Homo sapiens: one gene and its partners. The protein of the gene in region 2 purifies or fractionates together with the protein of the main gene of each other region. This does not show direct contact. Each region holds a gene or a part of one and is shown on either strand. Other genes may lie near its edges.

The links.
Region 1: the proteins of FOXQ1 (region 2) and ORC3 purify together in Homo sapiens (affinity purification with mass spectrometry; one large-scale study listed by BioGRID and IntAct). This does not show direct contact.
Region 3: the proteins of FOXQ1 (region 2) and PDS5A purify together in Homo sapiens (affinity purification with mass spectrometry; one large-scale study listed by BioGRID and IntAct). This does not show direct contact.
Region 4: the proteins of FOXQ1 (region 2) and ADNP purify together in Homo sapiens (affinity purification with mass spectrometry; one large-scale study listed by BioGRID and IntAct). This does not show direct contact.
Region 5: the proteins of FOXQ1 (region 2) and HEATR1 purify together in Homo sapiens (affinity purification with mass spectrometry; one large-scale study listed by BioGRID and IntAct). This does not show direct contact.
Region 6: the proteins of FOXQ1 (region 2) and RANGAP1 purify together in Homo sapiens (affinity purification with mass spectrometry; one large-scale study listed by BioGRID and IntAct). This does not show direct contact.
Region 7: the proteins of FOXQ1 (region 2) and PUM1 purify together in Homo sapiens (affinity purification with mass spectrometry; one large-scale study listed by BioGRID and IntAct). This does not show direct contact.

The regions. Positions count from the first base shown.
Region 1 is NC_000006.12:87,599,799-87,603,706, reverse strand, and holds part of ORC3 (origin recognition complex subunit 3), read right to left. Parts: intron 1,924-3,908; coding exon 1,826-1,923; intron 324-1,825; coding exon 179-323; intron 1-178. UniProt on the Homo sapiens protein: Component of the origin recognition complex (ORC) that binds origins of replication. DNA-binding is ATP-dependent. The specific DNA sequences that define origins of replication have not been identified yet.
Region 2 is NC_000006.12:1,310,675-1,315,197, forward strand, and holds FOXQ1 (forkhead box protein Q1), read left to right. Parts: upstream 1-1,423; 5' UTR 1,424-2,030; coding exon 2,031-3,242; 3' UTR 3,243-4,084; downstream 4,085-4,523. UniProt on the Homo sapiens protein: Plays a role in hair follicle differentiation.
Region 3 is NC_000004.12:39,866,360-39,870,267, reverse strand, and holds part of PDS5A (sister chromatid cohesion protein PDS5 homolog A), read left to right. Parts: intron 1-805; coding exon 806-874; intron 875-3,270; coding exon 3,271-3,407; intron 3,408-3,908. UniProt on the Homo sapiens protein: Probable regulator of sister chromatid cohesion in mitosis which may stabilize cohesin complex association with chromatin. May couple sister chromatid cohesion during mitosis to DNA replication.
Region 4 is NC_000020.11:50,888,083-50,891,000, reverse strand, and holds the end of ADNP (activity-dependent neuroprotector homeobox protein), read left to right. Parts: 3' UTR 1-2,083; downstream 2,084-2,918.
Region 5 is NC_000001.11:236,601,458-236,606,122, forward strand, and holds the start of HEATR1 (HEAT repeat-containing protein 1), read right to left. Parts: upstream 3,060-4,665; 5' UTR 2,965-3,059; intron 2,671-2,964; 5' UTR 2,639-2,670; coding exon 2,497-2,638; intron 1,920-2,496; coding exon 1,703-1,919; intron 1-1,702. UniProt on the Homo sapiens protein: Ribosome biogenesis factor; required for recruitment of Myc to nucleoli. Involved in nucleolar processing of pre-18S ribosomal RNA. Required for optimal pre-ribosomal RNA transcription by RNA polymerase I.
Region 6 is NC_000022.11:41,279,476-41,283,383, forward strand, and holds part of RANGAP1 (ran GTPase-activating protein 1), read right to left. Parts: exon of another isoform or gene 3,312-3,908; intron 2,169-3,311; exon of another isoform or gene 2,067-2,168; coding exon of another isoform or gene 1,982-2,066; intron 1,738-1,981; exon of another isoform or gene 1,608-1,737; coding exon of another isoform or gene 1,570-1,607; coding exon 1,458-1,569; intron 1-1,457. UniProt on the Homo sapiens protein: GTPase activator for RAN. Converts cytoplasmic GTP-bound RAN to GDP-bound RAN, which is essential for RAN-mediated nuclear import and export. Mediates dissociation of cargo from nuclear export complexes containing XPO1, RAN and RANBP2 after nuclear export.
Region 7 is NC_000001.11:31,062,661-31,067,074, forward strand, and holds the start of PUM1 (pumilio homolog 1), read right to left. Parts: upstream 3,058-4,414; 5' UTR 2,956-3,057; intron 1-2,955. UniProt on the Homo sapiens protein: Sequence-specific RNA-binding protein that acts as a post-transcriptional repressor by binding the 3'-UTR of mRNA targets.

The DNA of each region.
Region 1 (3,908 bases), about 86 Mb from region 2:
GGAATTTTTATTGGTTTTTGAAAATATGTAATATAAACTATAGTTGGTTTAATTGTACAAATAAGAGAGACAAAATAGGCTCATCAAAACAGGTCCTTCCACTATTCTCAACAATAAAAAAAAATTTAAAAACGAAATACACAGAGATGCATGCATGAACAAACATACGCATATATACCAAGAACAAGAGCAGCAGTTGGAATTTCTCTGAGTTTTATTTGACCGCCCAAGTCTCTTGAATTCTTCTGGAATCCAGAATGTGATTTTTGCAGAAATTCAATCAGATTGTCAAACAAGTTTTTATTTAATTCCTCTTGTAGTCGCTACAAAGAACACACAAAAACTTATTATTATTAGAAATAATAATCTGATGTCTTTCCTGGTTGTGGAAAGAAAATTGTCATGGATTCAATGATGTAAAATGATCAAAAGATGAACCTAATTAAAAAATGTTTTTTCCTTAAATCTCTAGTAATTAGTGCTCTGGGTTCCCCCATTAAAAATTCCCTCTCAAGCCTGGTCGGCATAGTGAGACCTCATCTTTTTAGATAAAAGACAAATTAGCTGGGTGTAGTGGTGCACATCTGTGGTCCCAGCTTCTAGGGAAGCTGAGGTGAGAGGGTCACTTGAGTCTGGGAGGTCAAGGCTGCAGTAAGCTATGATCATGCCACTACACGCCAGCCTGGGTGACAGAGCAAGACCTTGTCTCAAAAAAAAAAATTGTATATATATATGTATATATATATATATATTATATATGTGTATATATATATAAACGTGTATATATATATATAATATATAATATATATATGATATATGACATTAAAGGGTTTGGATTTTGTCCTATGGGGAGCACCACTGAAGGGATGTGAAGTAAAGACATAATTGGATCAGGGTTAAGAAGGGTTAATCTGGCAACAGGGCTGGAGGGGTTGCCTGGAATTGGGCTGCATTTGCCTTGAAAAGGGTCTTTTCTAATTTGGCCAATGGTGTCAGGGATGCCAGTCAGGAGGATATAACAATCCAGATTCAGAAATGAAGACGGCCTAAACTGGAAACCACAAATTCAAATACCTTGAAGGATCACATGGAATACGTGAATGAGCCTTTGCTCATTACCACTAGGTGTAAATCAGTAAGGACTGGTAGGCGGCAGTAATAAACTGGAAAGTATATAACCTTCCGAAAGGCAATTAAACCAAAAACTACAACACTGTGTTGGCCAAAAAAAAAAAAAAAGTTGTCAGCCTAAAATGCTGGCCCTAGAGCTACCAATTTGCTATAGTGAAGAAATGTTTCAGAGCTGGAATATAAAGATGAGAAAGTGAAGGAGTTTAGAAACAGCTTGATTTCACAGTTGTATACCTGAAAGGATAATTTAAGAGCGTCACCATTTGAAAGCTCCTTGCCTTAACAGCTATCATAAACATCTGTTCCACTCACAAGAAATATGAGTTTTTTTTGTTTTTGTTTTTGAGACAAGATCTCTCTCTGCTGCCCAGGCTGGAGTGCCGTGGTACTATCTCGGCTCACTGCAACCTCCACCTCCCAGGCTCAAGTTATCCTCCCAACTTAGCCTCCTGAGTAGCTGGAATTACAAGTGCACACCACCATGCCCAGCTAGTTTTTGTAGCTTTTGTAGAGACAGGGTTTCACCAAGTTGCCCAGGCTGGATTATGGTTGTTTTTTTAAGGATATACAGGCTATGCTTGACCAATACTTCCTATATTTCATCAATACTCTTGTAAACTGGTGGAAAGGAAGATGAGATGCAACAAAAATGAGACTTAGGGTGTTACAGAAAATTATTAAAAAAAGTATTCACCTCATTTTCAGATTTCATCTGCTGCCATATCAACTGATAAGTTTCGAATCGAAGCTTACTGTCCTCAGGCTCATTTTTCCCTTTGTTAAAATAGTCCTCTAAAAACAGAAAGAAATAAGTCAGTTTCTTTTTTCATATAATAGTATAAGTTATAGATCTTACGTGCAAAGTTACACAGTAAGTGACAGAAGTGAAATTTTTTTTTTTTTTGATATGGAGTCTCACTCTGTCACCCAGGCTGGAGTGCAGTGGCATGATGTTGGCTCAGTGCGATCTCCGCCTCCCAGGTTCAAGTGATTCTCTCCTGCCTCAGCCTCCCGAGTGGCTGTGACTACAGGCACGTGCCACCACGCCCGCTCAATTTTGTATTTTTAGTAGAGATGGGGTTTCACCATGTTGGCCAGGCTGGTCTCAAACTCCTGACCTCAAGTGATCTGCCCACCTTGGCCTCCCAAAGTACTGGGATTACAAGTGTGAGCCACCTTGCCTGGCCTTAATTTTTTTTACATTCATCAAAAACATATATTTGGGGACAGGTAACATTCAATATCCTCTGTATTTCATTTTTTATAATCTTTTATTTTTACCATATTTATGGCATATTTAAGATTAAAAATGTCAATCTTTCTACTGTATTTCTATCATTTGCTTTTTAATTTCTAACAGTTTTTATTAAGTGGCTTTTTTGAGTTATATACATTTAATAATGTTTTCATTATTTGCTGTTATTCTACAACCTTGTATACTTTGTTTCATACATTTGCTTTGAACTCTCCTCTATTGAATGACTTACTACTACTATTCTTACATTTTTCCACTGACATAGTTTAGTCCAGTCTTTCATTTATTCTGTCTGTATATTTTTGTATCCTTTTTGAATGCTTTCTCCAAATGGTTAGCTATTTGTGAAAATACCATTTATTGCACTGGCTTTCAAACTTTTCAAACTATAATCCACATTAAGGAATACACTTTATATCATAACCTAACACATATACACATGAACAAAAACTAAAGTCACAAAAAACAACACTCACCCTTATTATGTAATAGCAAATGTTTTCTTTCCTGTTTTATACTCATAGTCCACTAAATTGATTTCATAACTCACACATAAATTATGACATTTGGTTTGAAAAACCCTCCTTTATTGTACAATCCATCCTTCTCCCGCTGATTTGACATGCCCTTATAGTCTAAATACTTATATATACTTTGAACTATGTTTGAACTTTTTATTTTGTTCTACTGAATCCAACCCTATTCTCCTACCAGTCTTGAACTGTTTTAATTATTATGGCTTTGTATGTTGTACATTTTATCAAATACATTTAGGTCTTCCTCCCACTGCCCCCAAACATTGTTATTCTCTTTCAAAAAAATTTAAGCCACTTCTTCAAATTAATTTTACAGTAATCCTGTCACTTCTCAAAACTAGTTGTACTGGTATTTGACTAGATAAAATCAAATCCATAGACTGATTTGGGGAAAAATCCCATCTTTAATATGTTAAAAAATCCCCAACCCCAATATCACAGGTCTCTTTTTTTAATCAAATATTTTAGATTCCTTATAGTTTTCTACTTTCCCTCATATTTCTTGTTGTTTACTGCTACGTATTTTATTGTAACAACTGGAGTGTTCACGTTAAATTTCTGCTGCTAATAATCTACCACCAAGTTTTAATGTTAACTGATAGTTTGGAATATAAATTCACTTCATGTTAAGGAACTTCTCTCCTAATCATAGTTAACTCAGAGTTTTTAGCAACTATTGATTTTTAATTTTATCAAAAGCCTTGGAATACATTGAAGTCATCGTACGGTAAAGTGGCAGACAAGGTTATAGAATTAAAATGCCAACAAAAAAAGAAAGCAAGGAGACACTATTATTACTATTACTATTATTTGAGACAGGGTCTCGCTCTGTTGCCCAGGCTGGAGTGAAGTGGTGAGATCTCAGCTTACTGCAACCTCCGCCTCCCAGGTCCAAGTGATTCTCCTGCCTCAGCCTCCCGAGTAGCTGGGACTACAGGCGCCCGCGACCACATCTGGCTAATTATATTTTTAGCAGAGACGGGGTT
Region 2 (4,523 bases):
AAAAATAACAGAGCTGTGGCTGGGGCTGTCATGTTGCCCGCCCCATTGTGAATGGCTTCAAAACTCCCTGAATAAAGATAAGAGAGGATTGTGTACGTTTTCAACACAAATGGTGGAAAGTAATAAAATAAACATCAAAGGTGAGCTCCCACCTACTAGCGGCTCCGTCGCTTTTTGTGCAACAAAGGCAGGAAAAAGGAGGAAACTCGGCGTGGCAGGGCAGCGGGCTGGAAGTGCACCTTCCCGGGGCCGAGGCGCCCGCTCCCTGGACTAATGACGCCGCGTGGGGATCACGCCCCGGGCGCCCTGGGGTGAGGAACGGTCCCCCCTTTCGAGATTGTCCGACACTGGTGCCAGTGAGGTCACAGCAAAAGTCCCAAAGGAATATTGGAAAGAAATGGCCGTGAACCGGTTTGTTCTTGCCCCCGCCCCCGGGAACACGCCCTCTCCGTCGTTCCTGTTGACTGTCAGATCCCGGGAACCAAGCGGCGGAGCTCGGCGGCATCTGAGGCTTCCGCAGGGACACAAGTGCAGGCACAGCCCAGCACCCTGCGCCAGACACAGCCGCCCCAGGGGAAGAGGAGGACGCTGCTGTCCTCCCGCAGGAGTCACCAGCCAGGTAAAGAAAAAGGTAAAGTAAGACAAAGAAAAGTGAAAGTCGGAGCCCATTTAGTGAGCAAGAGTAAAGGTCATCCAAAAAGGCGCATACAATTTCAAGCCCAGGAGTGCATTCATTAAAACAAGAGGAAAAGACAAGATGGTCCTTGAAAGGAGCTCATAGGAAGGGGCACAGCACAAGGCTCCCGAAAGAGGTCACTGCAAGTGTCCTGCGCAATTTCTGTTCAGCACCTCTGCAGTGACGACAGGGGTTTGCTTTCGTAAGCAGCATCGTTTTCACTACTACAGAAGCACATACGCCGCGTGCAGCTTAGGCCCGAGCAAAGTCCCTGCTCCCCTAGACCCAGTCCCTTCAGGTGTCCCCCTAGGGGAACTGTGGCGTGTCCCCCCAACCAGGCGCACTCGCCTAAACTGCGTCCCCGAACTCCAGGGCGCAGGGAGCCCTCGCGGGCTGCCCGGGGCTGGGGCCCACACCTGAACGGAGGAGCCGGCTGGCGGAGCGGCCCCGCGCGCGCACACACGCACACTCACAGACACGCGCAAACCCACAGCGGCGCGCGCGCTCCCCATTGGCGGGAGGAGGAAGGCGGGGCCGGCCGACCCAAAACAAACAACCTGCGCCAGCGACTTTGCCGCCGCGCTGCAGTGTGGCCTCCGCCTGGTGCGCGCCCGTTGGGGAGCTGGGGAACTGGGGAGCCGCCACCACCTCGGCCACCTCGTTCCCCCACCCCTTGCCGTCCGCGCTCAGGCCCCGCCCCCGCGGAGCCGCCGCAGGGTTATATTGGGCCGGCCCGAAGGTGGAGGCGAGACGCAGCCGCGGCAGGCCAGCGGGGAGATGCTGCCCCGGAGGCTGGGAGCGGGAAGGCGGCTGCGGGCGCAGCGGCCTCGGGGACTCGCCTCCGCGGGTGCTCAAGGCTGAAGGCGCCGGACCTTCCCCCACGGTGGCACGCACATCATCCGGCACCATTTCCGTGCCCCGAAGACGCCCGCGCGGGACCTGGGACCGCCAGTGAAGAACCCCTCCTGGGCTCTTTAACGAGCAGCAGATGCGCATGCTGCTTCTCTCCGGCAGGAAAGCCTTCTAAGCCCGGCGTGCTCGGGCACCCGAGGGTGGAACCGCGGCCCCTGCACACACTCACCCCAAAGTCTCAACGTCGAACCGAAGGCGACACCCACCCAACTCCTCCCTCTCCGCCCCATAGTCCACCCAACACTTGCAGCCCCTCCAGAGAAAAAGCCCAGCGGAAGAGGACTCCGGAAAAGTGACTATCTCGGAAGACCAGGGTAGAGCTCCCGGGAGAAAAAGGCGAAGATCCCCGGCCCCGGATCGCCATCCCCTTCCCTGGCACCAGCTTCTCTAGGCTGCGCGAAGGAAGAGGGTACGACGCCGGGGAGGGACTGGGTGCGCGGGCATGAAGTTGGAGGTGTTCGTCCCTCGCGCGGCCCACGGGGACAAGCAGGGCAGTGACCTGGAGGGCGCGGGCGGCAGCGACGCGCCGTCCCCGCTGTCGGCGGCGGGAGACGACTCCCTGGGCTCAGATGGGGACTGCGCGGCCAACAGCCCGGCCGCGGGCGGCGGCGCCAGAGATACGCAGGGCGACGGCGAACAGAGTGCGGGAGGCGGGCCGGGCGCGGAGGAGGCGATCCCGGCAGCAGCTGCTGCAGCGGTGGTGGCGGAGGGCGCGGAGGCCGGGGCGGCGGGGCCAGGCGCGGGCGGCGCGGGGAGCGGCGAGGGTGCACGCAGCAAGCCATATACGCGGCGGCCCAAGCCCCCCTACTCGTACATCGCGCTCATCGCCATGGCCATCCGCGACTCGGCGGGCGGGCGCTTGACGCTGGCGGAGATCAACGAGTACCTCATGGGCAAGTTCCCCTTTTTCCGCGGCAGCTACACGGGCTGGCGCAACTCCGTGCGCCACAACCTTTCGCTCAACGACTGCTTCGTCAAGGTGCTGCGCGACCCCTCGCGGCCCTGGGGCAAGGACAACTACTGGATGCTCAACCCCAACAGCGAGTACACCTTCGCCGACGGGGTCTTCCGCCGCCGCCGCAAGCGCCTCAGCCACCGCGCGCCGGTCCCCGCGCCCGGGCTGCGGCCCGAGGAGGCCCCGGGCCTCCCCGCCGCCCCGCCGCCCGCGCCCGCCGCCCCGGCCTCGCCCCGCATGCGCTCGCCCGCCCGCCAGGAGGAGCGCGCCAGCCCCGCGGGCAAGTTCTCCAGCTCCTTCGCCATCGACAGCATCCTGCGCAAGCCCTTCCGCAGCCGCCGCCTCAGGGACACGGCCCCCGGGACGACGCTTCAGTGGGGCGCCGCGCCCTGCCCGCCGCTGCCCGCGTTCCCCGCGCTCCTCCCCGCGGCGCCCTGCAGGGCCCTGCTGCCGCTCTGCGCGTACGGCGCGGGCGAGCCGGCGCGGCTGGGCGCGCGCGAGGCCGAGGTGCCACCGACCGCGCCGCCCCTCCTGCTTGCACCTCTCCCGGCGGCGGCCCCCGCCAAGCCACTCCGAGGCCCGGCGGCCGGCGGCGCGCACCTGTACTGCCCCCTGCGGCTGCCCGCAGCCCTGCAGGCGGCCTCAGTCCGCCGCCCTGGCCCGCACCTGCCGTACCCGGTGGAGACGCTCCTAGCCTGAGTAGCGCCGCGGGGCCCGGGAACGCCGAGTGCGCGCCGTCGGGGAGGCGGGAACGCGGGCCCGCGCGCGGACTTTGCACTTTGAATCCAGAGGAAGATGAATTTTTAAAATCTCCATCAAACGTGCCTTAAAGCTAAAGCATTTTGACAGGAGTATTTAAACTTAGTCCAGGATATTTTCCTTTGTGTTTTATAACTTTACAGAGGACCAAAGCAATTCTTGTTTTAGTTTCTTTGCGAAGCCTGCTCCTCCTTCCCTTCATAAGGACTTTTTTTGTCTTTCTTTAACGCCCAGGCTTCGTCTTATTTCTACTGTTTTTGTCGCAACTTCCATTGATTTATGTCCCTTCCCTCCCCCCTAAGTACATCAGGGAACCTTTCCACACTATAAATGATATGACTACTGTTTGGGGTTTCTGGGCCCCCATCCGTGTACGTATGTGGCATTTCCAGGTATGACTGAGTGTGAGAGACATGTCAGAGGCTCTTCAGTGATTTCTTGCTATTGACCGATGCTTCACTGTGCCAAAAGAGAAAAAAAATGTTGGGTTTTGTAATTAAATTATTTATATATTTTTGAAACCCGAATTGAAAATGTTGCAGGCAACGGGCTACAGCTTTATTAGTGGTTCTCTAACTGTGGTCTCCTTGGGCCAAGCAATTTCTTTAAAGGAAAAGTTGATTATGTATGTGGGGTGCCAGGACCACTGCCTTGAAAGCAAGTGTGATTTTTATTTTTAATATTATTTTATTTGTGTCTGTGTACATATTCATGTATAAATTTTATGAAACCCAAGCATAGTGCTTATTTTTTAATAAAACAACTGACTTAACACATTGTGATGATGGGTTGGAAGTGGAGAGATTTTTATGTCTGTCCCCCCTCCCAAAAAAATGGGCTCAGGTTTTGGTCTCAAGAAACTTCCTCTGGAGATAAAAATATTTTCCTGAATAATTCGATAAAGGTATTATAGAATGGGCTTGCAGATTTCCGTATGAGATGCATTGCTAGACAGATTTCCAGATAGGACTTCCATTCATGGGCTTTTTAAAAGTTGAAAACCAATTACTCCTCTAATTAGTCACCTAAGTGCTTCCAGAACAAATGAGAGGGAAGTGTCCCTCTCTCCCCCAAGAATCCTTAGCAGGCAAGTTGAGTTCTTAACAAGCCTAGAGTCAAACAGATATTTTCAGGTAAATTGGTTTCGATTTGGGGCTCAAAAAGTTGGAGCCCCAATTTTTTTGACAACTTTTTTGTCATAAGACTATCTTAAAATATCAA
Region 3 (3,908 bases), on a different chromosome or scaffold from region 2:
TCATCTTTTCAGAGTTTTATGGTTTTAGCTATTAAATTGAGATATTTGATTAATTCTGAGTTAATTCTTATATGTATTAACAATCTAGTTTCTTTTTTTGTTTGTGTGTTTGCTTCTTGTGGATATCCAGGAGTTTTTTTGTTTTGCTTTTGTGTTTTTGAGATGGAGTCTCACTCTGTAGCCCAGCCTGGAGTGAGGTGGCGCAATGTCAGCTCACTGCAACCTCTGCCTCCTAGGTTCAAGCAGTTCTCCAGCCTCAGCCTCCCGAGTAGCTGAGACTACAGGCATGCACCACCATGCCCAACTAATTTTTTTGTGTTTTTAGAAGAGGCAGGGTTTTGCCATGTTAGCCAGGCTGGTCTCAAACTCCTGACCTCAAGTGATCCACCTGCCTCATCCCCCCATAGTGCTGGGATTACAGGCTTGACCCTCTGCACCCGGCTGAATATCCAGTTTTTCTAGCACCATTTGTTGAAGAGACTGTTCTTTCACTAAAGATGGTCTTGGCATCCTTTGTCAAAAATGAATTACCATATATGCAAGGGTTTTCTGAGTTCTCTATTCCATTAGTCTATATGTCTATCCTTGCCAGTACCAGCCACACTGTCTTGATTACTGTAGGTTTTATAGTAAGTTTCAAAATTGGGAAGTATGAGTCTTCTAACTTTGTCCTTTTCCAAGCTCTGGTTGGTGATGTTCCCGTAGGTTTCTCAGAGGCTGTGTTGATCAACATGAAAAACTTAATCAGCAAAAACATAAATTTTTTTTTTCATGCTAATAGCTAAATTTATTCAATTGTCTATAGTCAACAGGTGAAAAGAATGGAAAACTGTGGTCTCCAGATGAAGAGGTTTCCCCTGAAGTACTAGCAAAGGTAAATTTGTTTAGGCCTTGATAATCTTCATGTTTAAAAAAGGGACATTTTGTAGTTATCTTCCTCACCTTTAAAAAATTTAATAAACAGAGATGGGATCTTGCTGTGTTGCTCAGTTTGGTCTTGAACTCCTGGGCTCAGCTGATCCTCCCACTTCAGCCTCCCAAAGTGCTGGGATTATGAGCTTAAGCCATCGTGCCTAGCTGGGAGCCTTTTTTAATTAAACCTAATAGTTAATAAGCATTTGTTAAGGAGGTACTTTATTTTAAAATCCATTGCAAAAAATGGTTTATTGAAGACATTGTGGTTGTCATTGTTTATTACATGTCAGTGTCTTCTGCCTGCTAAAGCAATCTTAATGAGGCTGTTTTATAGAGAGACTGTTTATAGAATGACGGTGCTCAGAGGCATCTTAAATCCAGCCTCATCACCACTATCTACAAGCATATGAATATTAACTTGGCAAAGATAGGTAATTGTCAAGCTGGGCACTGTGGCAGATTTGGGATTTAAAATAAGATTGTATCATCTTCTTTGATAATCTGTTTCACTTTGTGTTGCTTCATCATCATCATATATTCTATCAATTCATTTTTCCTGGTTGTCAATAAATATAATAAATAATACTTTGATTTGTTTTTCACACCTATTATCCCAGCACTTTGGGAGGCAGAGCAGGAGGATCGCTTGAGCCCAAGAGTTCAAGACCAACCTGGGCAGCATAGTGAGCCATGTCTCTACAAAATATTAAAAATAATTTAGTTGGGCTAGGCATGGTGGCTCACGCCTATAATCCCAGCACTTTGGGAGGCTGAGGCAGGCAGATCACTTGGGGTCAGGAGTTCAAGACCAGTCTGGACAACATGGTGAAACCCCTTGTCTACTAAAAATACAAAAACTAGCTAGGCATGGTGTTGCACATCTGTAATCCCAGCTACTTCGGAGGCTGAGGCAGGACAGTCACTTGAACCTGGGAGGTAGAGGTTGCAGTGAGCCAAGGTCCCGCCACCGCCCTCCAGCTTGGGCAACAGAGTGAAACTCGGTCTCAAATAATAATAATGATAATTTGGCCGGGTGTGGTGGTGCATACCTATAGTTCCACCTACTCAGAAAGCTGAGGCAGGAGGATCGCTTGAGCCCAGGAGGTCAAGGCTACAGTGAGTTGTGATCATGCCAGTACACTCCAGCCTGGGTGACAGAGCAGATAGAGATGATTGTTACTAAATTTGTGACATTTAATAGATGTAAAGCTCAGTTGAAAAGTGGCAGATTTGGGATTTAAAATAAGATTGTATCATCTTCTTTGATAATCTTTCACTTTGTGTTGCTTTGTAGTCATCATATATTCTATCAGTTCATTTTTCCAGGTTGTCAATAAATATAATAAATAATACTTTGATTTTTTGGCTAGCTTTTTCACATATATTGGTAACAATCTTTTGACTAGACATTTCTAAGTAATTATGACTACCAATAATTACACAAAATCCCATTTTTTTGGTCACAATGTTAAATGAGACTGAATCAGACTTGATGGTTTCTTCAAAGTAGTTTTTCAATACCACAAAACTGAAACTCTCAAGTTATTTTCAGTCACCACAATCAGTACAGTTGTGGGGTGTGTGTGTGTGTGTGTGTGTGTGTGTGTGTGTGTGTGTGTTTTGGTTTTTTTATGAAACAGAGTTTTGCTCTGTCACCCAGGCTGGAGTGCAGTGGCACAATCTCAGCTCACTGCAACCTCTGCCTCCCGGGTTCAAGCAATTCTCATGCCTCAGCCTCCTGAGTAGCTGGGACTACAGGCGTGTGCCACCATGCCTGACTAATTTTTTTTTTTTTTTTTTTTTAGTAGAGACGGGGTTTTTTAGTATAGACACGGTTTCACCATGTTGGCTAGGCTGGTCTCAAACGCCTGACCTCAAGTGATCCACCTGCCTTGGCCTCCCAAAGTGCTGGGATTACAGGCGTGAGTCACCACCCCCGGCCTGTATAGTTTAAATTGTTGTTTTTAAAGTATATGTTTTCAAATAGTTTCAAAATCTTGCACAAACATCTAAGTATGAGAAGCCTAAATTCTGGAACCAGACTTTTAAGCAAGTTATCTATGATAATAATGTGTCTCAATTGCCTTATCTGTTGGAAAAAAAAAAATCTTCCTCATAAGAATTTTTTGGGAGATTAAATAAGTTAATACATTTACAGATCTAAGAAAAGTGCCTGGCACTGGTTAAGCACAGAGTAAATATTAGTTCGTATTGTTGCTGTTATTATCCCATAGACTTATTTAATAAAATGTCTGCTGATGGAGATGAGTAATCTCATTAATCTAATTAAATTAATTTTCCCTTTAATTGGAATTTTAAGTTGCTTTCTTTTTTTAGCATGTTAATATTTTATAGGTACAGGCAATTAAACTTCTGGTAAGGTGGCTGTTGGGTATGAAAAACAACCAGTCTAAATCTGCCAATTCAACCCTTCGGTTATTATCAGCGATGTTGGTTAGTGAGGGTGACCTGACAGAGCAAAAGAGGATCAGGTGAGATTTTTCTTTCTTTCCAGTTTTCTTAGTGCTGAAATTTTGGTGGAATTTACATAGGAATTATTTACCTAATGAATACTGAATGGTGTAATTACACCATGATCTTCAGGGTCAGATCTTATGTACTCATTTAGGGTTTGTCTGTCTGTCAGTATTGTTATTTTAATAGTGCCAATATATTTTTCTTCATTCCTAAAGAAGAGGAACTTTTTCCAGTAAATACATAATCATAATCACTATATTGTACTATTACAGTTAGCATCAACATTTGGTTCAATTAAACAAGTATTTGTTAAACTTCTACTTCATAAAACACTGTGAAAAGCATTGCAGCAAAAATAAGTAGGAAAAGTCCCTGCCTTCAAAGAGCATCCCTGTATTAAAGCGATTAAATAAGTGGAGTGACTTGAGTCCCATGAAAGTAATAAAAATTTAAGTGGCAGCCAGGCGCGGTGGCCTATGCCTGTAATCCCAGCATTTTGGGAGGCCGAGACGGGC
Region 4 (2,918 bases), on a different chromosome or scaffold from region 2:
TGGGAAAAGCGATTTTTTTTCATGTATTCATTCTGAATAGTTGAAATGTATATTTGTACAGTCTTTTAGACCTATTCAAGTGATGCTCATGATCCTGTTACTGTGTGCCCATCATAGATTTCTTTTTTTAGTGTTGCCCTTGCTGTGTAATAAACGCTCTATCTAGTTTACCTAGCAAAAGCTCAAAACTGCGCTAGTATGGACTTTTTGGACAGACTTAGTTTTTGCACATAACCTTGTACAATCTTGCAACAGAGGCCAGCCACGTAAGATATATATCTGGACTCTCTTGTATTATAGGATTTTTCTTGTTCTGAATATCCTTGACATTACAGCTGTCAAAAACAAAAACTGGTATTTCAGATCTGTTTTCTGAAATCTTTTAAGCTAAAATCACATGCAAGAATTGACTTTGCAGCTACTAATTTTGACACCTTTTAGATCTGTATAAAAGTGTGTTGTGTTGAAGCAGCAAACCAATGAGTGCTGCATTTTGGATATTTAGTTTTATCTTTAGTTCAACACCATCATGGTGGATTCATTTATACCATCTAATATATGACACACTGTTGTAGTATGTATAATTTTGTGATCTTTATTTTCCCTTTGTATTCATTTTAAGCATCTAAATAAATTGCTGTATTGTGCTTAATGTAAATATTTGCTTTATTACACATGACAGTCCTGTGTGTCCATTATATCTTTTGCCATTTAATGCCATAACTCTTTCATCAGAGATGGCAGCCACAGTCACAGAGGAAACTTGTGGAAAACCCAAGATCTGTCATCTGCAAATAGAATGCTTTCTCTTGAGGCACCTGGTACAAAATCTGTTTTTCTTTTTTTTTTTTTTTTTTTTTTTTTTTTTTAACTGAAAAACAAACACCCTTGAGTTTTTCAGTTCACCTTTTGTTAAGGAGCAGAGCCTGCATATATATGTAAATGTCTCAATGATAAAAAAAAAAATGTAAACATGGATTGGCATTAATTTGCAAGCAGAATCTTAATAGCCTGATGGGTTTTTTGTTTGTTTTTTCTTCTAGATGAAGTTAAACGTTCGTTTTCACCTTACGATGGGAACAACTGTAGTGCAGGCGGCTCTGCCTCTATTTGCCACTCTTGGCCCTCTTGCTATTAAGGGAAAGGCTTTGAAGAGCACAGCACTGACAGGGCTGTAAAGATGGAAGGAGCTGGTATTTTTACCATGCGTAGATTCCCAAGAGAACTTGTACTAAAAAGCAGAAAGTTACAAGGAAGCAGAATTAGGCCAACATTTCCAGCAATTAAAACAATGATGGGAAACTCCAATCCATGAGGAGGCTGGTCAGTCACCTCAAGGATAGTGGCCTAAAGAAGTCTGAAGTGGCTGATGTCCATAACTTCTGAGTCTGTTTCCAAAAGAAAGACTCTTGTTAATGCTGTTACCAGAGAGTAGAGATTTGACCAGCCTCTCCCTAAAATGTAAGCTTCTCAACAACAGTACAGGAAGAAGTGCAAGAGTAGACTAGAACCTTTAAGGAATTTGGGGCTGGAACGGAGCTATGTTGCATCTGTTGTTATACAGGTAGATTATAAGTTCTACATGCACCAGCCAAAACTTAGGACAGGATGTCCCCAAATTAAGATACTACAGATTACCAAATCAGAAATAACCAGCTGGATTTAGGCCAGCTCACATTTATTTGGAAATTACCCTCCCTGATTAACAGGCTTCTGAGTTGTACGTGGAGGACTAATGAGACTTGTACAAGACACCACGGGGCTTGGGGTCCAGGTCCCAGTTGGATATCGGAACAGACACAGATAAGTGTGTTTCCTCATTAAGGTGGTGAGAGTGTGCCTTTTGGCATTCAGAAAAGGGTTTAGCCACCCTAAGAGTTGGAAATAAAGATTCCCAACTGGAAATGTTGCAGAATCCCTACAAGTGTCTCAATAAAAGCCATTTTAAAAGAATATTGTTGCTACTGTTTGCTTTTCAAATAATCTGGAGATCGTTGGCTATGGCAACGTGCTGCCACCTAATTAGAGAATGCCTGTAAATGTAGGCTGAACACTTCTAACATGAGAAAACCTAAGTATCCTACAGAGGTTTGGTGTGTTTTGTTTTTGTGGGTGTCGGGGGAAGGGGGTGGGGAGGCGTGTTTTTGGCCCTGCAGGTTTTCTCGTGGGAATGAGTTCACTCAGACAAGCTAGGACTGTGGCTTCTTTCCCTGTTCATCACATAGAGCATTTTCTCATCCTATCTTTGGTTCCTTGTCATTGTATAGGGAGAGGAGAATCTTTATCAAACAGCTTCATTCCCTCTTGCAATTCAAGCAGAAAGGGTATCTATGCCTCATATCGCTCTAGAGTTGTATGTCAGTTTGATCCCAATGCCTACTCCTTTGTAACATCCATTTCTGGCATGAACAAAATGAGTGCCAAATTTGAAAACTGCGATGTATTAAAGATGGGAGTTTCCCATCTGAGATGCTTCACGCTAGAAACAAACCTGCTTATTGCCAAATAAGTACTACCATACAGAAGTGTAGTTCCTTTACTACTTAGACCTCAGACTACTAGTACTGAGTCCTCGAGATGAGACTCAAGAATTATCACTAGGTGGTTCGTTTTTTTGTTTGTTTGTTTTTGAGATGGAGTCTTGCTCTGCTGCCCAGGCTGGAGTGCAGTGGCGCCATCTCAGCTCACTGCAACCTCCGCCTCCTGGGTTCAAGCCATTCTCCTGCCTCACCTTCCCAAGTACTGCCGGGACTACAGGCACGTGCCCCCATGCCTGGATAATTTTTTTTTTTTTTTTTTTTGTATTTTTAGTAGAGACAGGGTTTCACCGTGTTAGCCGGAATGGTCTCCATCTCCTGACCTTGTGATCGACCCGCCTCAGCCTTTCAAAGTGCCGGGATTACAGGCGTGAACCACCA
Region 5 (4,665 bases), on a different chromosome or scaffold from region 2:
CTGGCCTTGAAGCCATGTCTCCAATTAATGGAATAGAAATCTACTTTTAAAACATGTAAGTTGGACTGGATGTGGTGGCTCATGCCTGTAACCCCAGCACTTTGGGAGGCCGACTCGGCAGGAGGATCGCTTGAGGCCAGGAGTTCCAGACCAGCCTGGGCAACAAAGTGAGACACTGTCTCTACAAAAAATGGAAAAACAAAAACAAAAACAAACAAACAAAAAAAAAACTAGGTGGGCATGGTGGTGCATGCCTGTAATCCCAGCTACTTGGGTGGCTGAGATCGGAGGATCATTTGAGCCCTGGAGATCGAGTGGGCCACGATCACACCACTGCACTCCAGCCTGGGTGAGTGAAATCCTGACACTCAATAAAATAAAAATAAAAAGACAGCCGTGTGCAGTGGCTGTGGTGGCTCACACCAGCACTTTGGGAGGCTAAGACGAGTGGATCACGAGGTCAGGAGTTTGAGACCAGCCTGGCCAACGTGATGAAACCCCATCTTTACTAAAAAAAAAAAAATACAAAAAATTAACTGGGCGTAGTGGTATGTGCCTGTAATCCCAGCTACTTGGGAGGCTGAGGCAGGAGAATTGCTTGAACCTGGGAGGTGGAGGTTGCAGTGAGATGAGATCGTGCCACTGCACTCCAGCCTGGGCGACAGTGCGAGACTGTCTCAAAAAAAAAAGACATACATATTGGGAGAATAAATAAAACAAAAATGTGTATGCTGTGATGTGACACCAATATGTGAGAAAATAAACTAAGCTTACTGAGACAATTCCCAAAGCAGATAAAAGATCAGACCTTGGAAATAAACTTCAGCTGTATCCTAGCTCTGCCACTTACTAGCTGTGTGACTCAAGAAACTTAATCCCTCTAAGCCTCAGTTTTCTCAACTGTAAAACAAGGATAATACAAATAATCTCACCAGAGGAATGCTGTGAGAATTAAATGAGATAATGCAGATAAAGTGCTTACCAGGGCCTAGTGTATAAATGCTCAAAAACACATTAGCTATCATTGTTTTTCTCAAGCAATGGTATTTCAGAGGATAACATTGCCTGCTTCCCCAACCATCTTGTTATTTTGCCAAGAAAGCAGCTTAGTACTCACTGCCTCAAGTGTGCAGGAACAAGCTGTAATGGCAAAGTAGCATGGGCTCTTCAGAACTAACGAGGTTAGGCTGGGCGAGGTGGCTCACACCTGTAATCCCAGTATTTTGGGAGGCCGAGGCGGGTGGATCACCTGAGGTCAGGGGTTAAAGACCAGCCTGGCTAACACGGTGAAACTCCATCTCTACAAAAACACAAAACTCATCCAGGCATTATGGCAGGTGCCTGTAATCCCAGCTACTTGGGAGGCTGAGGTGGGAGAATCACTTGAACCTGGGAGGCAGAGGTTGCAGTGAGCCAAGATTTCAATATTGCACTCCAGCCTGAGTGCCCAGCAAGACTCTATCTCAAAAAAAAACTAATGAGGTTAGACCATTTACTCAAAATCACCAGTAGTTCTACTTTTCACTATCAACAAAAAAGAATTTAAAGGCAGAAGAGCATGCTTATCTCACACAATGGACATTGTATCAATCTCTTAATATACCTAATTTTTCAGCTTTAATTTGATAAGTTCTCAACTACTTAATTTTTTACAAGACCAAAGTGATTAACCCATAGTTATTTCTGTAATTCTATTAGCTACCTGTGAATCAACCACTCCAGACACTTCTGTGCTGGCTTAAGCAGGAAGTAAGGCGACAAGTGAATAAGGAATAATGAAATGTTTTCATCCAACTGTTTGTTTACTGCTTTGGTCTGAACACTTCGCTCCAAGGTTTTTGCTAGCTGACTGAACAACGGTGCTTCAAACTGCTCAAAGGAAGGATCAATTCCAAGCAACTCTTCCAGGCCAGTACATCCTAAATTTCAAAAAAGGCCAGTTTATTTAACAATTCTTCGTAAGCAAATTCATCCCACCCCTCTTTTACAGTTTTACTTACCCCTAAGAAGTTTCTGAATTCTTTAAGTACATATAATTTATAATACAGTCCCAAACACTGATTTCTAGTTTTCAACTTTTAGAGTAAATCCTATCTCATCTACTAGAACAGAAAGTACTTCGTGGCAGGGAACACTTTTTTTTTTTTTTTTTTGGATATCCCCTACAATAACTAGGCCAGTCCTCTGAGAGGACTTCTCCGTCACCCCAGTCACTGCCTCCATCCCCCTTTTAGCTGTTCTTCTCTTTGACATATTAGTTGACCTCTCTAATTTTGTTTCTTCATCTGTGAAATCCAGATACCTCTACTCATAAACATTTCAAGCACCAAGCACCTGACTGTTATGTTCTCTTTCCCTTAAAAATATACATCAACATGCTAGAAACTGCTAAGGAAGAGGACGGGACAGAAGAGAAAACAAGGGGAAAAAAAAAAAACAGTAACATCCAGAAAACAAACGCTTCCAAGAGCTTTTCTAAGTTAAAAGATGGCTCACCAATGGCGAAGGCGGTGTCCCTGTCGATTGTGGCCGCTTCCTTAGGGTCAAATAACAAAGAAGCAACTTCATCTCTAGATAAGAGGCTGGCATCACTTTGAGGGAGGGCGAGTCGTTGCAGCTGCTGGGCTAAGGACGTCATCTTTCACGCCAGCGGAGTTTTAATGACACGGGCTAAAAAAACGTAAGCACTTTGATAAGTTTCTACGAAATTATAAGGCGCCTCGTAAACAAACAATTCTCTTCTGCACTCAGCACCGTCATGGACACACAACGCGGGTGTCCTGAGATTTGTGGACCCCGGAGATGCAAAGACGATGGCAGCAGCGTTAACAACTAATTACAGTAGCGGCGACCGCGCCAAGGCTTTCCTTCAACCCTGATTCCGCAGATATCCGGAAAACTCTTACCCTCCCTCGATATGCCGCCCCCATCCGCAGCCACATCAAGCGGCTCTGTGCCGCTTACCTGGAACTGGGAATTTGGGTATATCTTGGAAGGCAACAACTCTTCACAGCGCTTCCCACATGGTACCAAGGAGCCCAACCCTCACCCGGAAACCTAAGGCATGCTGTAGAGCAACTTCCTGCTGCAGGCGCTACGGCAAGTGAAGAGGTTCAAGCTTGCCGGGAATGCGACGAGACAGCTCCGCCTCCCGAGACGAAAGCCCGCCCCTCAGCCCGCCGGACTCAGGCTCAAGTCTGAGCTTCGCCTCTGTAGCTCCGGTTTAGCGGTCTGCTCTGCGGCTTGTGTCTGAAGCTTTCGGTCTCTGGATGGGCCTTCTGTGGGCTTTAAGGATCCGTAGCCAGAATCATTCATTCAGTAGTGATCCAGCCTTTACTAGGTGCCAGCAGCACCGCGTAGTGTTGAAAGCTATGGGTTGTGAAGTCACGTGGTTTGGGTTCAAATCCTGGCGCTGGCGCCTGTCGGCCGGGTTAACGCCACCAAATTATTTCATCTCTCCGAGCTTGTTACTCACTCTACAAAGTGGGAAGAGGCCGAGATTGTCGTGAAAGGAGCTTCTGCTCCTAGTGCAAACCGATCTATAAATGCTGGACTCCACCGCCCCAGAGCTTGGGGGAGATCTTGTCACTCCTCTATGTTTCCATTCCCGAGGGGTAAATGGCATATATTTTTTTCTTTCAAAACGAATCATAGTCAGGCGCGGCCTGTAATCCGAGCACTTTGGGAAGCTCAGGCGAGCTGATCACCTGAGGTCAGGAGTTCGGGACCAGCCTGGCCAACATAGCGAAACCCCGTCTCTACTAAAAATAAAAGAATTAGCCGGACGTGGTGGCGGGCGCCTGTAATCCCAGCTACTAGGAAAGCTGAGACAGAAGAATCGCTGGAACCCGGGAGTCGGAGGTTGCAGTGGGCCAAGATTGCACCACTGCACTCCACAGAGCGAGACTGTCTCAATAAATAAATTAATCGAATCCTGTTGAGGTATAATTTACAAACAATGGTTACACCCACGTCAGTGGAAGAGTTTGATGACTTTTAGCAAATGCATGTATAGGTGTAATGACCTCCCCAGTCAAAATGACAGTTTCCATCGCCCCTAAAAATTGTCTCTTGCCTGTTTGCGAAGATTCCCGCAACCACTGGTCTTGGCCTCACTACAGATAGTGTTGCGGAAGAGTATCCTTATGTATGAATATAGCTAATCTGTTTCCAAAACACCGGTATGCGCTAGAACTAGGATGAACTGACGTCTTCCAGACGAAGGAGTGAGATCTGATGCTCTGTCTTTTCTGGATGCATTAATTTCTCTGAAGAGCTCTGCGGGGCCAGGGGGTCAAGTCTTTCTGTAACCGTCTTCCCTGGAGAATGTCAGAAACACAGCTACAAATTTGGAGGCCCTGGTTGTCTATACCTCATGCAGATTCTCTCCCATTTACAAACAGAATCTTTTGTTGTTGGTTTGCTTTAAAAGCATTTAAAACAACCAAATATTTTCTTCAGTTATTAGTATTTCTACTGACTGTTAATAATCTTCTTTTCATGTGGTGTTGAGTGCCTTGCAGAGAATAACATGAAAATTCTAGTAGTACCTATTTCATTCTTACAAACATATCTCTCAAAGGAATTTTTTTTTTCTTTCTAACATGTCACAGGAGTTTTACCTTTACAGAAGCAATCAGCTTTCGGTACTTTAAAAGAAATGAA
Region 6 (3,908 bases), on a different chromosome or scaffold from region 2:
AAAACAAAAAGAAAAGAAAATTAGCTGGGCATGGTTGTACACACCTGTAGTCCCAGCTACCCAGGAGGCTGAGGCATGAGAATTGCCTGAACCCAGGCAGAGGTTAAAGTGAGCTGAGATTGCACCACCACACTCCAGCCTGGGCAACAGAGCAAGACTATGTCTCAAAAAAAAAAATTAGCCAGGCGTGATGGTGTGAGCCTGCAGTCCCAGCTATTTGGGAGGCTGAGGCAGGAGAATCGCTTGAACCTGGGAGACAGAAGTTGCAATGAGCCAACATCGCACCACTACACTCCAGCCTGGGTGGCAGAGTGAGACTCATCTCAAAAAAAAAAAAAAAAGCCGGGCACAGTGGCTCACGCCTGTAATCCGAACACTTTGGGAGGCCAAGGTGGGCAGATCACCTGAGATGAGGAGTTCGAGAGCATCCTGACCAATATGGCAAAACCCTATCTCTACTAAAAATACAAAAATTAGCCGGGTGTGGTGGTGGGCGCCTGTAATCCCAGCTACTCAGGAGGCTGAGGCAGGAGAACTGCTCGAACCCGTGAGGCAGAGGTTTGCAGTGAGCTGAGATCGTGCCACTGCACTCTAGCCTGGGTGACAGAGACTCCATCTCAAAAAAAAAAAGTGATAAATGCACAGGGAGGAAGTCTATAAACGTTAGACCTTATGGAGATGTTAGGAACATGCATCAGCACGCTCCCAGCTACCCAAGGACTCAAGCAGCCTCCGACCTGGAGAGGAGAACAAGGCTGCCTACACAACATGACAACCAGGCATGTCCAGACCAGTTCCCCTGGTTGGGCCAGAATCCCAGGAGGCCTCACTTGATGCAGGTGCCTTCACTTGCAGGTGCCAGGTGATTCAGGGTTGGTCAGTGGCAGCCAAGCCTTGACAAGGGATGAAAAGACAGGGTCTGCTCTCTGGTTCCTAGTTTTCTGTGGTTGCAATACCTGTATACACACAGACAGCCATCCCTCTCCCAGGTACATCTGGTTGCATGAACCAGCATCTCCCAAGAGGGCCCAGGTTGTTTTAATGCAGCTCCACCAGAGCCTCAGCTCTGGGGAAAGCTGCAGCTATTCCCAGGCCTGCCTGGGATCATGGGGGTTAAGGGCAAGGGTGGGGACAACACCGGATATTAAGTCAGAGTCAGAGGCTGTATCTTGGGACTGGCACTAACTGTGGCCCCTCATTACCTATCATCCCCTCCTGAGAAAGAAAGGGCAGGGCACAAAGGGATGCCCAATACAAACATGGAAAGTGCAGGGGAGCTTGCTCCTGGGCAAATGATCTCTGAGCCTCATTGTTAGAATAGGCCCAATGATACCTCACAGAGCTGCTGGGACAAATAATGGAGACAATGTAGCAGAAAGAGCCTGACAACCAGTAAGAGTTCAGTACACTCCCTCTCCTCCCCTGGACACACCAGTGCACAACTTCCAGAAACTCACCATCTTCTGCAGTGTTGAGTTTGAGGCTCTTGCCTTTGAAACTCAGCTGTCCCCCGGCCACCTGAGTCTTGGCAAGTGTCTCTGCCAGCTTGGCAATGTCTTCCGAGGCCATGTTGACTAGGCTGGTGGGCTCCCCTGGAGATCTGCAGACTGAGGAGGCCAAAGTTGCAGTAAGAAAAAGGAGTCTCCTGGGGCCCCTGGTTGGGGGCAGGGTAGGACATCAGCCATCTCAGGAGTCTGACCCTACCTCCCCTGCTATGGAGACCCTAGAGATAAATCACTGGAAGAAAGGAAAACAGCATCAGAGAAGGAACAGTTCTAGAAGGTGCAGGAGGTAGTAAAAGAACAGAAAAATCATGTCTTAGCCTATAAGAAGCTACCATCTCATTACAAGTCCTCCTCTGCTAAACTGCCGCAGCTGGACACCCAGCAACACCATGTGAGCTGCCCATTTCCTGGGCCCCTTCAGTGAATGGCAGTCAAGTCCCAAACCAAAGGCTGCAGAGTCTGGCCCAAGCACACACCTGCTTGAGCATCTTGGCTGTTCTCTGTTTGAGGGTCCCATTCCTCAAACAGGACACAGATGGCTATGGGATCCAGATCATTCATCCCAGAGAATGCCCCACCACCCACGCTGGCATGACTCTGGGGTGGGGCACAGGGGTCAGCCCCACTGCACGTCTGGTTTCAACCGTGGCCGGGAGACTGGGCAGGCCACAATGGCCCCTCAGGGGTTTCTAGATCAGAGATCGCCACATCACAACAGCTACCATCATAATAGGACAGGGACAGGGCTGCTACCTATGAAGCCCTACTATACTCAAGTCTACCAGAAGATTTGGGTAGAAATGGGGTTGATAAGCCTCACTATTTATAAAATCAGGAGTGCTGGTAAAAGAAGTAAAGCTGGCCAGGTACAGTGGCTCACACCTGTAATCCCAGCACATTGGGAAGCTGTGATGGGAAGATCGCTTGAGCCCAGCAGCTCAAGACCAGTCTGGGCAACATGGCAAAATCCCATCTCTACTAAAAATAAATACAATTAGCAGGGTATGGTGGTGTGCACCAGTAATCCCAGCCACTGGGGAGGCTGAGGTGGGAGGATTGATTGAGCCCCGGAGACAGAGGCTACAGTGAGCCATGATCTCACCACTGCACTCTAGCCTGGGTGACAGAGTAAAACCCTGTCTCAAAAAAATAAAAATAAAAATAAAAATTAGCTGGGTGTGGTGGCACGTGCCTGTAGTCAGTCCCAGCTACTGGAGAGGCTGAGGCAGGAGGATCATTTGAGCCCAGGAGTTCAAAGCTGCAGTAAGCTATGACTGCCACTGCACTCCAGCCTGGGCAACAGCGGGAGGCTCTATCTCTAAAAGTAACTAAATAAATGAAAGAATTTTTTTTTTTTGAGACGGAGTCTCGCTCAGTCGCCCAGGCTGGAGCACAGTGGCGCCATCTGGGCTCACTGCAAGCTCCGCCTCCAAGGTTCATGTCATTCTCCTGCCTCAGCCTCCTGAGTAGCTGGGATTACAGGCACCCACCACCATGTCCAGCTAATTTTTTTGTATTTTTAGTAGAGACAGGGTTTCACCGTGTGTTAGCCAGGATGGTCTCGATCTCCTGACCTCGTGATCCACTCGCCTCAGCCTCCCAAAGTGCTGGGATTACACGCATGAGCCACCACGCTTGGCCAATAAATGAAAATTTTTAAAACAAGTAAAGCTTTGAGAACTCCTGCGCCTGCTCATGGTACTCCAGCTTTACTTGGAGTACATGTGAGATTAAATGTCTCAATGTGTACTGCCTATAAATTGAAGCCAGCTATATTAGACAGGAACGTGGAACATCACTACATACCTGAATAGTGTTTACTTTGTGGTATGAATAAACGTATCTGTGAGATGCTCCAAAAAAAGAAAAGAAACAGCAAGTAATCAGGAGAGACCAAGGAAGCAGATATGAGGGGCAGAACTAGGGGGTGCTATCCGAAAGGCCTCCTCCTACAACCTCCTCATTCTCAGATACAGTTGTGATACCCTGAATCCTCCCACCCCTAGGCTTCCTCTGGGTTCTAACTTATAACCCTGGTTTGTCTGCCTTTATCAATAAGCATGAATTATTATCCTGGGTAAGGTGTCCACTCATTCATTCAAAAACACATTGATTACTACTGTGTGCTGGATGTTGTTCCAGGTCAGCAGTATAGCAGTAAAGGAAGCATAAACCCTGACCTCTTGAAGCATATGTTCTAAATGACACATTTAGTATGTGATTTAAAAAAAAAAGGGGGGGGTTGGGGGGCCGGGAGTGGTGGTTCACGGCTGTAATCTCAGCACTTTGGGAGACCGAGGCAGGTGGATCACGAGGTCAGGAGTTCAAGACCAGCCAGGCCAACATGGTGAAACCCCGTCTCTACTAAAAATACAAAAATTAGCTGGGCGTGGTGGCACACGC
Region 7 (4,414 bases), on a different chromosome or scaffold from region 2:
CCAATTAGGACACACCTGTCCACAGCCACGGTCTAATTTCAAAGCCATCGGCCTAACAGTCTACTGCTACAAATGCTTTATCTCTTCTCCCAACCCCCACTGTGATGCTTCAAAAACACATGAATAACAAATCTACTATCTCTCTGTTGAATAAATAAACCTTCTGATAAAGTAGCATTTGCTTCTCACAACTAAATTCATGTTTTTGAAGCCAGCCTAAGAAGACACAATGGAATTTGTAATTTGTTTAAAGCCTAATTTGGAAATGCCTAGTCTAGGTTAAGAATTCCAATCCATCAGAACCTTAGCAGGGTACTGGAGTAGTCTAACCTAGACACTAGTCCCTGCTCAAGTACCAAAACCAAAAAGTCATAGCCCGGTTTCACCATCGGTCTTTCAAAAGTGCAAACCAGCCTAATGCCTCCCTGCTTGGTTTTTTAAAGAATTCATTACTCTCTTAGTACTAATACTAGACAGTCCCATTCTGTTCTAAAAGGAAATCTCGACCTAACAATCTTTGTTCTAGAGCAGGCCAAGAGTTCCAAAACCCAAGTTCTTTCACTAAACAAAACTACCTGTTTCCTCATCTAGAAAATGAAAGAAATCCTTCCTCTATGACTCTCAATGTTTTGGGTTTTTCTTAATGAAAATGAGATAAATATAAAAGTTTTTGGTAAATTTAAAGTCATCGTGCTTAAGACTCTTAGAATTTAGTTACCCCTAGTTAAGGCAACTCCAGTCCCTAACAGAATTCCTAAAACAGCAAATGCAATCTTTTCTGAAATAAAAGCCTTCTCAAAATAGTTATCTAGGAGGCTGAGAGAAGGATAATGAGAGATTACCTAAGGAGGACAATGTACGTTATTCCAGTGATGGACACACAAAAAGCCCTGGCTTCACCACTACGCAATACACGCATGTACAAATTACACTTGTACCTCACAAATTATACAAATAAAAATTTTTAAAAGAAAAAAGTTATCTAACAAAGAATATCCACATAAAAGAGGAGTTTATCACTGACGCACACTAAACACACCTTCATTCTAAAAGGAATGGGGGAAAGAAAAGACTCCTATAAAAATGTTCAAACGAAACAATTGGCTTTTGTAAAGCTATCTGTATGCCCTAAGACTTCCTGCTTTACCTAAAGAGGCAAGGCAGTTTCTCAAACCAGAGAAAACCTGGCAGAACAGTTTCAAAGTGAGCAAATACCTAAGCAATTAACATGTTATCTTGGGTAGTTTTGTGGTATTTTGGCAAATACGGCACAAAAATTAAAAACTCAGTATCCTAAATATCAGAAAAGCTCACTAATACGTGTAGCATTTAAAATGTGATTTTTTTACAAATGACACCTTATAAGTACTTTAAGCAACTAGAAGTGCTCAGTCCAGCTACTCTTTCACAGCTTTCAAATGTTTACAAAGTTTTTTAAAATATCACTAATTGAGTTGAATTCAAAGGAACACGGTTTACTTTATTTCCATGGCTCACCTTTTACTAAAATGCTTAGTGGTTTAAAAGGTGTTTATTTTTACCACACTTAACAAACATTCTGTGGTCATAAATTTATCTTAAAACAGTTCATTTTAAACCTAAACTAAACAAATTCCAACTTCAAAAAGCTGTGGCCTTGAACAAAATGAATTCAATTGTCGCTAAAGCAAAACACTAACTCAAAGTTCAGAATCCGGAGAGCGTTTCCCAAGAGCCCAGATAAAGAATCAACAGCCCCCCAGTGTTTTATAAAGTTAAAATTAGCAAAGGGTCAAAATGTTTATTTTGCTTACGAAAACTGCATCGGAAGCCACATTTCTTGGGGTTGGGCCTGTCTTAGTAAGTTTTTAGGTGCTTTCAAGAAACAAAATGCTAAGCCTATTGTTTCAGAAGTTAACTGACTTTAAAACAGAACCCAGGAAAAGCTTCATAAAATCTTATTCTTAATTAATCCCAGTAATAACAGGAATTGAGCAAAATGGTATCGAGGGCTGAGAACAGTGTTTTCTTAATTGAACAATAAAAGGTAACAATCTAAGTTACGGGAGAATAAAGCCTTCTCTGGTAATGCTGTGTGTGGGTTTCTGGCTTTGTTTTTTCAGCGGGGGGGGGGGGGGGGGCTATAGGAGGGAAAAGTTACAGGAGTGTATTCCTCACTTGACGTGGGAATGGTACTGACAAGTAAAACAAATGATCTATGTTTACCAAGCATGTTTGTGAGGACTAAAACTAGTATTGTGTATCTAGATTTTCCTACTAGCAAGGGGTGAACCCCTCTTTGAGTGAAGAGAGACACCAACACCGGGAGGCTCAAAAAGGAAGAACCCACCAAAAACACAAGCTCACACGGAAACAAAAGGCCACAGCAACCCAGGAGCCTAAAAAGCATTCTGAAACTTCCTGATCGCCACTTCTCCACATTTAAGGCTCGCAAAGTTCCCCCACGGTGAATCTCGCCTGTGGACAAGGGCCACGGCTGCTTCTAAAGCGATTTATTGTTCCTCCTCCTCCGGCGCTGCCACGGAAGCTCAAGAAGTCGAAGAAATCGGGGTGGCACAGAATTACACTTCATGGCCACACAGAAGACTCGGGGCTTCGCAAACCCATCAAAAAAAGCAACCCGAATGGCAACATCAATCTTCGGTGGTTCCCAACAGGGCCAGGCAAAAATGTAGAGGCACGTCTACGCCCTGGGCTCGGGCCTAAACCCCCAGCATTTTCCTAGCTTCGACCCCGCTCCCCACCCCCTCCCTCCTTTGATAACAATAGGGGCCTTGCTGCTGACTCCAAAACATGTACGAGGAACAGCGAGTGAGAAGCCTCAGCCAGGGCCCCGGCGGCTTTTCCAAAGCCCTTCTCACCCCCACAACCACTCTCAAACACCAATATGAAGGGACAATCTGCTCGTTAGGGGTCCGGAGCAGCGTTTGGGGCCGGTGGGGTGCGGATACTCACGGGCGGAGCGGTAGGATGAAGATGGATTTCAGCCCCCCGATCTTCTCTCTCTGGCGCTCTCGCTCCCCCTTACCTTTCACTCCGACAACATGGCGGCCCACTGGGGACTGGGTTGGCGCGGTGCATCCTGGGATAGGCTCCGGCCCCGGCCCCGGCGGTGGCAGCGGCATGTGCGGAGAAGGCTGGCGGCTCTGGAACAGGTTGCCTGGTTGCCATGCCAACCCAGGGCCTGTGTGAACTCGGGAAACTCGCAGGCAACACAAACGCTGCGCGCGAGTGCCCGCCCGCTAGGCGAGCGCGCGCCGCCAGGGCCGAAGGCGGGGTCCCGCCGGCCCGCACCTGGGAGAACACGGCCTGGAGCTGGGCACGCGGGGTTGCGCCGGTGACGCTCCACCGAGTCTCGGACGCGCTCCTCGCGCCCGCCGCGCCCTCGGAAGCTTGCCCCCGAGCACCACAGCTAGCAGGGTTCGCGGACGGCCACCCGCACTGCCCTGGCCCCAGAGGTGCAGGGTTCAAACCCCTTCTCTGCAGCTTTCTAGCTCTGCGGCCTTATTTAAATCGACCTGCCTCCATTTCCACATTTGTACAATGAAGAAGAAAATAACCCCCACTTAACAGAATGGCCTGGAGGATTAAGTGGAATAATGTATGTTAAGTGCTTTTAGTCTTACTGTCTCAAACTAAACTCAAAATAGATTGAAGGCCGGGCGCGGTGGCTCACGCCTGTAATCCCTGGACTTTGGGAGGCTGAGGCGGGCGGATCATGAGGTCAGGAGATCGAGACCATCCTGGCTAACATGGTGAAACCCTGTCTCTACTAAAAATACAAAAAAATTAGCCGGGCGTGGTGGCGGGCACCTGTAGTCCCAGCTACTCGGGAGGCTGAGGCAGGAGAATGGCCTGAACCTGGGAGGCGGAGCTTGCAGTGAGCAGAGATCGCGCCACTGCACTTGAGCCTGGGCGACACGGAGAGGCTCCGTCTCAAAAAAAAAAAAAAAATAGATTGAAAACAGACAAATCGCAATACTGTAAAAGACCAGAAGAAGATATGGGGAGAAGCTCTATAATTGGAGGAGGGAAAATGTTTATACTCATGAATCAAAGTCAAAAGATCATAAAAGAAAATATTGAAAGAAATATAAACATCTGTACGAGAAGAGATGCCATCAACAAAGTAGAACAAATGGATAAAAAATATTTGCAGTACACGGCCAGGCGCGATGGCTCATGCCTGTAATCCCAGCACTTTGGGAGGCCGAGGCGGGTGGATCATGAGGTCAAGAGATCAAGACCATCCTGGCCAACATGGTGAAACCCCGTCTCTACTAAAAATACAAAAAAATTAGCCGGGAGTGGTGGCGGGCGCCTGTGGTCCCAGCTACTGGGGAGGCTGAGGCAGGAGAATCACTTGAACCCAGGAGGCAGAGGTTGCAGTGAGCCAATATTGTGCCACTGCACT